2 separate regions of the Homo sapiens genome follow, and region 2 is linked to region 1. Evidence: fine-mapped expression QTL. A gene starts in region 1. The other region holds a variant in brackets. All regions are shown on one strand. Distances are between the middles of the regions.

Region 1 (5,540 bases):
CTTTTCATCCTCTACAGATGAAAAAAATCTGTTTCACTAACACGTCTAAAATAGCTACTTAAGTCCACTAATTGCTCTACAGAATCAAGTCCATAGATAGATTTTATTCATTGCCCAGGAAAGAGACAAGACAAAGCATCCAGTCCATTTCAAAATGTAACAAGGAAGAGAAAACACAGGAAGAGGACAGTAATACTCACTGGCTTTAGCCTGAAATTACTTACGTAATATGTAACTACACAATCAAATGACAGGTGGTGTTTTTTCCTTTAAAAACCATACTATAATAAAACCACTTGGCTTTATTATAATATCAGGATGTGATATTCTCAAGTGGGAGGTTCTACATGGACTCAAACTATGTTACCATTCCTCAAAACAGAATGCACCCAATTTTTTTCAAAAACCTCTGTAAAAGCAAAACTTAATTTTGAATGTAGATTTAACTTTCAGAAACATGCAAAAAAAATCACAAGAGAGCTTCCTAACTATTTAGAGGAGATGGACTATTTAAAAGTGGGCAATGCTTGTCATTATCATAGCCATCATTTATTGAGTACATTCTATGTGCTAGGCTCATTACTAAACCTTTTATATGTATTCTCTCATTCCCCACAACAACCCCATCAGCATGATTAGCCCAGGTTTACAGATGAGGAAATAAAGTTCAGAGAGGTCAATTATCTTGCCCAAGGTCAAACAGTAGCAAAACTAAGATTGAAACTCAGATCTTCCGGATTCCAAAAAAACATAAAGAAGTAAAAGCACTGGGTGGTAGGTGGGCATGCACAATTTCTAATGAACCATCAATCTGAGAATTCTATAAGCCTTCAGTTTATTTAATTTATCTGGTGAATAAATGACATACTGCATTTTATCATATATAAGATATTGCCCTCAAATAATGAGACTACTGTTTTGTGTGTCTCAAAAACCGGCTTTAGTAGCCATTCCAAAGAAGAATTACAAAGACTTTTAAGTAGTGACAGCATTATCCATATAACGTGTACTGCTTTGGAAGAAAGGAGTCAATCTAGGTGAATAAGTTCTGGTATATTGTTAAAAATTCAAACTTACTGCTTAATAAAAACGTCTTTTATTTACAATCTGAAGTTTAAGCTCCTGAATCCCTCAAGCCCTCAAGTGTACTCGGAAAAAGGCTTCACATTGATCAACCTACCAAGCACACACCGAAGGCCTACTAGTGCGCACTGCAATAAGACAGACTATGGGAACCATATTAGAAACTTACTCCATCCACAAGGAGTTAGCAGGTTGCTTCCAACCACGCACACAGTCAGTCATTACTGGGACAACCAAAATCCTCCGGTGCTATGGGCTGCCCTACAAAGGAAGCCTGCTCTTTGGAACAATAATTAGATCAATTAGGTCATTTTCCCAGAGCTCCTTTCACTTTCTTGTAAGCACCGCATGGTTGTGGTTGGTTTTGACATTGGTGTTGGCATTAGTGAGTTAATTTTCCTCTTGCCTGGCTCCCTGCTCCCTCCCCCTTCTCTCCCTTCTTGCCTCTTCCACCCGAAGTGGAAACTGCAGACTCAAACTCCCCTATGGCTCCAGCACCAAGAACTGGGCATGCTCAGAAGGCCAGGCAGGCTTTGGTTGCAACTGACAGTTCCCCGCCCCTGATTTGCCGCTACCCCCCTTCCCCCACTCCAACAAGAGATACTGAAATGTTTATCTGAAAGATACGAGGCCTCTTTTTCCCGAGAATGACCCCATTTTAATTTCATTTCGCAGGGTCTCTGAGTCTTGAGAAACCCCCGCTGGAGCCCGAGGAAGACCGTATTATTTTTCAGCACCGGGGACAGCGCCGCGCTGCCATTAACGTCCACCCTCCCCCACCTTCTCTCTCCGCCACCCCCCACCCGCCCCAACCTCAGCCCCCACCCCCGCACCAGCACAATGCCAAGGTCTCCCAGCAGCCGCAAACGCCGCAGCTGCAATAGCTCCCAGCCGAGGCCGGGCCGGAATGCCGGGCCGGCTGCTACTTACACTGCTCCGCTTTGGTGGACATGGTGCTGTCCAGTTGGAAAGGCTTTGCCCCAAAATCTGTGTCGTGTGAGCTCCCTCGCTCCGCCAGCGATGTTGCGAGGAAAAGAGTGCATACCCCCCACCCCCCACCCCCTCGCTTTCCCCCTCCCTTAGGCCCGTGTCGCTACCATTCGGACAAAACGCACATCAAATTGCAGAATTCGGTCCCGGAAGGTTAGGAAATCGCCCCCGGAGAAATGGGTGGGATTTAATAGGCGGCCAAAGGCTTCCTGTCCGTCCCCTCCTGGAGCTGCCCGCGTTGATGTGGGCGGGGAGACCGAAAGGAGAGAGCAGGCTGCGGCTCCTGGTGAAATGGGAAAATGGGCTCGACCGGGGGAGGAGTATTTCCATTCATAAGGCGCACGGAGGGGACGGGTGTTTCCCAGAGAAAAGCCTCTTAAAGCGCCGGAGTCCCCGACCATTTGGATCTCCCATTGGCGTTCTCCGGGCCTGTAAATCCTGCTCCCGGAGCAGCCCCCGGAGCCTCAGCAGGGTGACCAGAGAGGGACCCAGGTGCGTCCCACGCTTCGTCTCAACCTCGGGGAGGAAGGAGAGGGAGGCGGATCCGGGGCGGGCTGGAGCGCCGGGGCCGGAGGGCGCGAGGATGTTCCTGAGGACCGCGAGGAAGAAAATGCAGGAGGAACCCTCAGCATGGCTTCCCTGTGCGCTGCGGTCCCTGCCCTCGCCTCCCCTCTGCGATGGGCTCTCCTGCTGATGATTGGGGATGGGAGGTCCCACTGCCAGGGGGCTGTGACAAGACTTTAGAAGTTGGGGCTGAAGGAAGGAGGAGATGTCCACGGATGGTGAAGCTGGAAGGGCCACAGAAAAGGAAGATGAAAGACTGAAGACAGGAAGACCCCAGGTGTGCTCCCTTGCAGCCATCCCAGCTGGACAGGGACACATTAGGAAGCCCCTCGACTGGAAAACCGAAGGCAGCGGGAAAGGAAGGCAATAGACGAGGGCATCGTGCATATTAATAGGAAGATATCCAAAGAATCCACTACAGAATGGAGAGACACTTGGAGTCGGGAAGAACCAGATTCAAGACCCACTTTTACCACTTACTCACTCAAGGACCATCTTCTAATCTCCCTACACCTCCGGTTCTTTATCTGTAAAATGGGAACATTAAAACCTTGCCCTGTCACCTGAAGAGTTACTGGGCAGATCGAATGGATGCGCAAGTCCTTGTAAACTAAAAGTACGGCACAATCCCCAACCATTATGTCCATTCTTCATTCAAATAGTTTAATTTGTTAAAGCTGAGGGGCATGGTCATAGCAGGTTAATTTAGTAAAAGTTACAGGAACAAAACGGTAAGTGTTGACAATGACTTTTAATGCTGATAAATCAATGTTTTCCACCTCAGAGAATAAAAGATCCTATTTAGGGAAAGAATTTTAAATTCTGTGTAATATATCAAACTATTCAGGTGAAATCTTGGACAATTAAGAAAAATATTATGAACAAACATCAAGGAAAGATGCTTCTGAGTAGCAAATAAAAAAATCTACAAATAACAGGGAAACTGCCCATAATGATGCACACACAGCACTCAAGTTTCATGGTATTTGCAAAAATGTTCATAAAGGGTTAGTGAATTGGCTCTTTGGGTTGCATATGTGATTGGACTCTGACATCCTGCTGATTGGCAGGTTGCTCTGGCTAATCAGCTATCATTCCATGTCATTGTTCATTCCCAAAACCACATCCCAAAGAGAAGTTCCATTTATTAGTAAAAGATAAATGATTATGTGAAGCATGATGCCAAAGAGTTCGTTCTGAGTAAAAAGAAATTGGAATCATTCTAAAGAAAATATGAATATAATGAACATTCCTGAGAAGATGACAAACACTTTGTATGACTAAAAGAAAGCTCAATGGGTTATTCAGAAAATTCTTGGAAGCCTGAGGCTTTGATAAAGAAAACAGTAATTGGAAATTAACACACATGAAAAAGAGGTGTCTTGGATAATACAGAAACAAAGGACAAAGTATGTGTTGGAAACCTATTATCCCTTTATCTGCTTAACAATCTTTCATTTGTCATCAATTAACCCTCCCGTTACTGAGTTAAGGGAGAGTATAATGGTGTTAAGTCATGGACTGAGGAGTTAGACAGCCTGGGTTTGAATTCCAGCTTTGCCTCTCATGATCTGTGTAACCTGGTGCAAGTTACTTAACTTCTCCATGCCTCGACTGCCTTACCTGAAAAATGGTCATATCATAGTCACATTAAAGGTTGTCAGGAATAAATAAGTATATATATGAGAATCTAGAACAATGACACATATGAGTGATGGCTGCTATTAGCATTACTGCTGAAACTCCTCAAATGCACCCAATCCATTCAGGTTAGTTCTGATGCTTCGGAGCCTCCAAAGCCTGATAGCACCCATATAATTGAGACTCTAATCATCAACCTAGGCACTCACAGCTTGAGCCTTCTGACATGCCCATTAACTCACTAACCTGGGCCATATCCATTACTCAGTTTCACCATTCCGACATATGGCCTTACTACTTCAATGAACTCCCTCACCTTTCCTTCTGTCTCCACCTATCTCAATCCTTCCTGCTTAGTTTTCTTCTATTGCAGAGGTAGTGCCTCTTCTCATTGCCAGATGCAATGCCTTTTTTTCCAAACCTATGCCTCTAATTATAAACATTTCTACTTATTCTAGAATTTGCTATTTTAATTATCTTCTTTTTCCCAGCATTTTAAGTCTCATCTTTTCAATGGATTTTCCCATCCTGCTTGCAAACATGCATAAATTTTTCATCCTCAAAAAGCTGTGCCTATCATCTTACTGAATAAGTGGCCTCCATTTCTCCATTTCCTCACTACCCTACCTGCTATCAAATTGTGGCTGAAACAGGTTACTTCAATAGTCACTAATAATTTCCTAATAGTAAATTATAATTGCTTTATCTCTTGGTGACTAATGCCAGCATTTGAAATTTCTCCCTATTTCTTTTTGAAATTCCCTCTTCCCTTGACTTCTATAACATAATGCTCTTCAAAGTCTTCTCCAAACTTTTTGCCCATTCTATTGTTTAATGAAGTAATTCAAACATAGAAATATTTTAAAAATCATGAACACTAATGTTACCACTACCCAGTCTCATCAAATCTTAATATTTTGTCATGTTGCATTGTTTTACTTTTCAGAAAAAAACATTTTAGAGACATTAGAAGCCCCCATAAAAAATTATTCTAAATTTGTGGTTATGTCCTTATATTTTATATTATTTATTTATTTGTTCAGCAACTACTTATTGAGTGCCTATGTATGTCAAACACTGCTCTAGGAACTTGTTATAATGTAGCAAACAGAGAAGACAAAAAAAAAAATCTGCTTCTTAAAACTAATATTCTAGTGGAAAGACAAAAAATAAGTAAGTAAAACATAATATATTCAGTGCTGACAAGTACTAAAAAGAAAAATATTACACAAAGGGAAGGAGAAAGTTTGTATTGAAGGGTT
Region 2 (5,000 bases), 49 kb before region 1:
TTACAATAACATAGCCTGCATCAGTCAATGTTCACTTGGAATCAGCTCTTTCTCTTCTCTGCCAAAGCCATCATCTCCCAAATCTCCATATTTCAATTCAGTCCACAAATCACAGATCCTTTATTGGAAAAAGAGAGGTTTCCATGGTGACATGCAAATGACTTTCTCAATTCTTAGTAACTCCTTTAATATATTTTTTATAAACAAAGCATATTGAGCACATTTGGAATAAAGAGAAATATATTTTATTTATGGAAGGAGTTAAAAAGAAAAGCTATGTCAAAGGAAAATTTCACAATAAGTAAGTTGAAGTTTGCTCTGCAGAACCTTAAAAGGACTCATTCTAAAATAAAAGTCCAGCACTTGGTTTATTGACAAGGATGGTAAGGAGGAAATCTCTGATATACATGCTGGCCTCTTACTCTGAAGAGCTGCAATACCTCATTAGGTCCACTTCAAAGATCAGAACTTTATCTTCTAGGTCCTTAAGGATAGAATCATTTTATACCTGAAAAGCAGTTCATGTTTTCCATCTGACATTAGGAACACCACACCAAAAAGCCTTTTTGTCTTAAAGACTTTATCAAGTACTCAGGACATACAATATCCTTCATCCTAACATCTCAGTCCTGAAATAAAAATATTCTGCAAGAAGTTATGCGTTCTTGTCTTGTTTTGGTCACAATTTCTAGACACCAAAACAACTACCAAAAAAATAGAAAAAACATGAATACGACACACGGACACACATTCTCACATCAGTCCATTTTAACATGATTAATCTGAAACTATATCCTTCTGGTTTTGGATCTATGTCTTTGTATACTCATGAAATAACAAGTACAAAGGAAACACCTGAATGGTGTAATCGAATTTGGCTGTAAAGGTTGGTATTACAATTTATTTTCAAAGACTTAAAGATGACAAATATTGGCTATTATTGAACCACAGGAATGATTATGAGAAAGGAAAGTCAAAGCCAAAAGACTAAAACCAGAGCAACAAAATAAACACATGAAGTAGACCAACAACTAGGTTAGAGGACAATACGTGCCTCTTACATAAAATAATATTGATGTTACTTAAACTAGAATTAGTACGCCAGAAGTAATCTGCGAGACTGAACATTTTTTTCAAACCCCTTCTTTATAGTTAAAAAAAATGGGACCTTGGGAACATGAAGTGACTTGTTCATACCTTCAAATAAATGCCAAGTTACTCCTCTAATAAACATTAAAATATACACAAATTTTGTAAACTCAACTTACTGTTTTATTCTCCTCAGTTGCCAAGGTTTGTACATTTATGTAAGTAAGAATTCTAACGTGACTACATGGCATGTTTTGGGATCTGTGTTTCTAATTAAGTAGAAATTAATAATTAAGTGTAAAGAAACAAATTGTCAGCTATCACAATACTTGATCAATCTTAAATGTAACTTCAGAGGCCTGATATTTTCAACACCTCTCCCATAATTATTAACTTATTCCTAAGAAGGAGGGATTTAGTGAATTAGATTAATTGTTAGAAAGCTACAGCCTCCTCATTAATCCCACCATCGCCTCCCAGCACTTTGGAGCCTGAGGCAAGAGGATCACTTGAGGCTGGGAATTCCAGATCAGCCTGGGAAACATAGTGAGACCCCATCTCTACAAAAAAATTTTTTTAATTAGCTGGGCATGGTGGTAGAGGCCTTCACACCCTACTTGGGAGCCTAAGGCAAAAGGATCGCTTAAGCCGAGGAGTTTGAGGCTGCAGTGAGCTATGACTGTGCCACTGCACTCCAGCCCAGGCAACAGAATAAGACCCTATATCAAAAAAGAAAAGAAAAGAGAGAGAGAGAGAGAGGAAGGGAGGAAGGGAAGGAGGAAGCCAGGTGCAGTGGCTCACGCCTGTAATCCCAGCACTTTGGGAGGCTGAGGCGGGTGGATCACCTGAGGTCAGGAGTTTGAGACCAGCCTGGCCAACATGGCAAAACCCCATCTCTACTAAAAATACAAAAATTAGCTGGGCGTGGTGGCTGGTGCCTGTAGTCCCAGCTATTTGGGAGGCTGAGGCAGGAGAATCACTTGAACTCAGGAGGCAGAGGTTATAGTGAGCCAAAACTGCACCACTGCACTTCTGCCTGGGTGACAGAGTGTTACTTCATCTCAAAAAACTAAAGAAAGAAAGAAGGGACGAAGGGAGGAAGGGAAGAATGGAGGGAGGGAGAAAGGGAGGGAAGGAGGAAGGAAGGAAAGGAAGGAAGGAAGGAAGGAAGGAAGGAAGGAAGGAAGGAAGGAAGGAAGGAAGGAAACAGCCTCATCTGTTATGCTTCAAAAAACCAAAAATTCTTATGCCTAAGTTTAACAGTTAACATCACTTATTTTAAAGATATGACTATGCAATTCTAAAACGATATCAAGAAATGAGTACTTGTCAGTAAGAACAAAAGAAGAAAATGATCAAATATTGTATTACTTGAATGGTATGATCAGTCTGCTAATTTTTTTGAATTGCTATATAATTTAGGGAGAAGTCAAACTCTTTGCTGAAAGACATGAAAAGTACAATTCCATAGCTAACATTAAACTTGATTGTAAAAATAAGCAAATGTAGCTCAAAAGATATATATGGTTACCAATTGTTATTACAGAGCAACAACTTTAATAAGAT[C/A]GTAAGTACATAAAATTAAAATGTGAATAATGATCACTAGGAGTTGAATGTAACCAACGAAAGTATTTTTCTAAAACAATAGTTGAGAGAAGGCGAGAAGCAAGCTGACACTTATTGCATACCAGGCATTGTGCTAGCATTTTACCAATGTTCCAAGTTAACCATCTTAATTATCCCACAACTTCATGAGGCAGCTATTATTATTATTATTATTTTATAAGAAAGAAACAGAAAGTTGGGTAATTTGCCTAAAGTCATATAGCTAGTAGGTGGAAGAGCTGTGATTTGGATCCCAACGTTTGACTCCTAAATCCACAATCTTTTCGGATTTCCCACTGAAACATAGATTAATCCATAATCCATTTCTTTAAAAAATACTTGAAAATGATTTTGATCATAAAAACCACAATGCAATATTTTTTTCTCTTTGTGCGCATGTCTGGAAAGCCTGTAAGATTAAGTCTACAGAAATGAAACAGGATTCAAATCAGTTTTATGTTTATAATCATACATTGCACATGACTTGGAAGCTTTAGCTTTTTTCAGTGCTTTCATAAATTTCGAGTCACTTTATCATCACGATACCTCTATAAGGGAAAGCTGATGGATTCGTCACTCTGTAGATGATGTTTCAACTATGTGAGCTGCCCAGATTAGAGGCAGAGCTGGGACCAGAATTTACACATCCTGACTATCTAATGCTCTTTCTATTAGATCCTACTGCCTTCAAAGCCAAAAGATAGGAATTTCTGCATCTGAGACAATACTTTCCCCATCTTTTTTCTAAAGTGGTAAAAGATACTGTAACTTATACATAGGAAATCTAGACTGCCTTGATATGTTCTTTTTTTCTATTCTATAAGATCAAACAGTCTGAATAAAACAATTTTAAGCCCTAACGCCTTTCATTTCTTTGACTTTCGCCATAATATCCATGCTAAAGTGACTGAATTGAAATCATAGCTCCTGTATATATCAAGTGATTCCATTATAATCTCGAAAAACTAGAGCCTATAACAGCAAAAGCAATTTCCATTCATATCATACATAAAAATAATCTAGTATTAGGTAAGATTGGACTTACATATAGCCATTGGTAGAAAAGATGTGCTAAGATATTCAATGATATCCTTGTGCAGAAATGGAGGAAAGGTAGCCAACGTTGATATCATCGTGTAGGGCAAAGTACTCAGAATATCATCATTGAGAAAAGGTAGCAAACATGTAGTTGTATAAAATATCGACTGTCCAAGATCTACAAAACAAAATTGAGTAATCAGTCACTGAATATTTTGCAATTAACAAAATAGGCTAACTTTACATTTTAAGCTTTAATGAACTGGTTTAAGTTATAAGCAACTAGTGCTCCATCTCTATTAAGTGTTATGAAACATAATGTTTGATAGGGTACTATTTATACAGTAATTGGTCAATAAATGACTGATGAATGAATATGTTAAGAAATATAAATATCCATTACATGCATTTTTCCTCCACACTTTCTCAATCTTCAATAATACTTGGTATTTGTATTACTACATTCTACACAAGATAACTGAGGCACAAGAAGTTAGATGATTTGCCCAATGGAAGTTTTAGAAAAGTCAAGGGCAGTATCAGAAATAAAACCGGGCTATTTCTGCTCCATCAATCAAACCATCTGGAGTGTCGGGCAATGAGGTAATTTGCAACCTTCAGCCGAGCAGCAATTTCAGCAAGCACCAAACAAGGGAAGCCGTAAGCTGGTGCTACATGACCATGTGCATTGAGTCATCAATGATCATGGGAGGAAGTGCTACCTAATAATAATCTTTCTAACAACATCTTTAAACAGGGATCATAACAATACCTACCTCACTTCATTAGAAGGATTGTTAGGAGGTTTTAATGAGATAAATGTAAAGTCCTTAGCATAGCACATACTGTGTGCTCCACAAATATTAGCTGTTATTACTAATATTAACAGTTACTATTATTATTACCTGCACAAGAATAAAAATAAAGGAGATGCAACAAAACCATAACTATTTAGCTTTAGAATGCATGTAGGCCAAATCCCATTACACTAAATGTACATTTGTATATTCCTGGACTTCCCAAAATATAGGCCATCAGCCAAGGTTTGATGATGAAGACTTGGATCACTTTTGTATTCATTATAACAGAAAAGTACTAGACTCTTCTTTGTTTTGCAGCAGATGAACCTTCTTTGGATTCCTAATGTTATTTCTGATTGTCGTTAGAATTAATATGCCATCTTAACAGGCACATCAGCTAACAACAGAAAGGATGTGGCCACAGTGCACACTAGAGGGCCAGAGTCAGTCAACCTTGAGCTCAAATGA

Which allele goes with the higher level. Positions count from the first base shown, and alleles are read on the strand shown. Sizes are in standard deviations (SD) of each study's normalised expression.
As copies of A replace C in region 2, the expression in cerebellar hemisphere of the gene that starts at base 2,126 in region 1 goes up (small effect, 0.26 SD a copy in GTEx).

What was found. PIP is the estimated chance that this variant, and not a neighbour inherited with it, causes the effect. A credible set is the group of variants that fine-mapping cannot tell apart.
Region 2: its variant is the best candidate, but not a certain one, in a credible set for the expression of UNC79 in cerebellar hemisphere (GTEx, PIP 0.52).

The regions. Positions count from the first base shown.
Region 1 is chr14:93,427,525-93,433,064 of GRCh38, reverse strand. UNC79 (unc-79 subunit of NALCN channel complex) reads right to left here and starts at 2,126. Exons shown (of 52, transcript NM_001395159.1): 1 at 2,014-2,126. The coding sequence starts at 2,035.
Region 2 is chr14:93,476,468-93,481,467 of GRCh38, reverse strand. It overlaps UNC79 (unc-79 subunit of NALCN channel complex), which reads right to left. Exons shown (of 52, transcript NM_001395159.1): 4 at 3,740-3,910. Among named protein-coding and RNA genes, the nearest start is that of UNC79, 48 kb to the right of the region's middle. The variant C/A (reference allele first, on the strand shown) is at 2,656.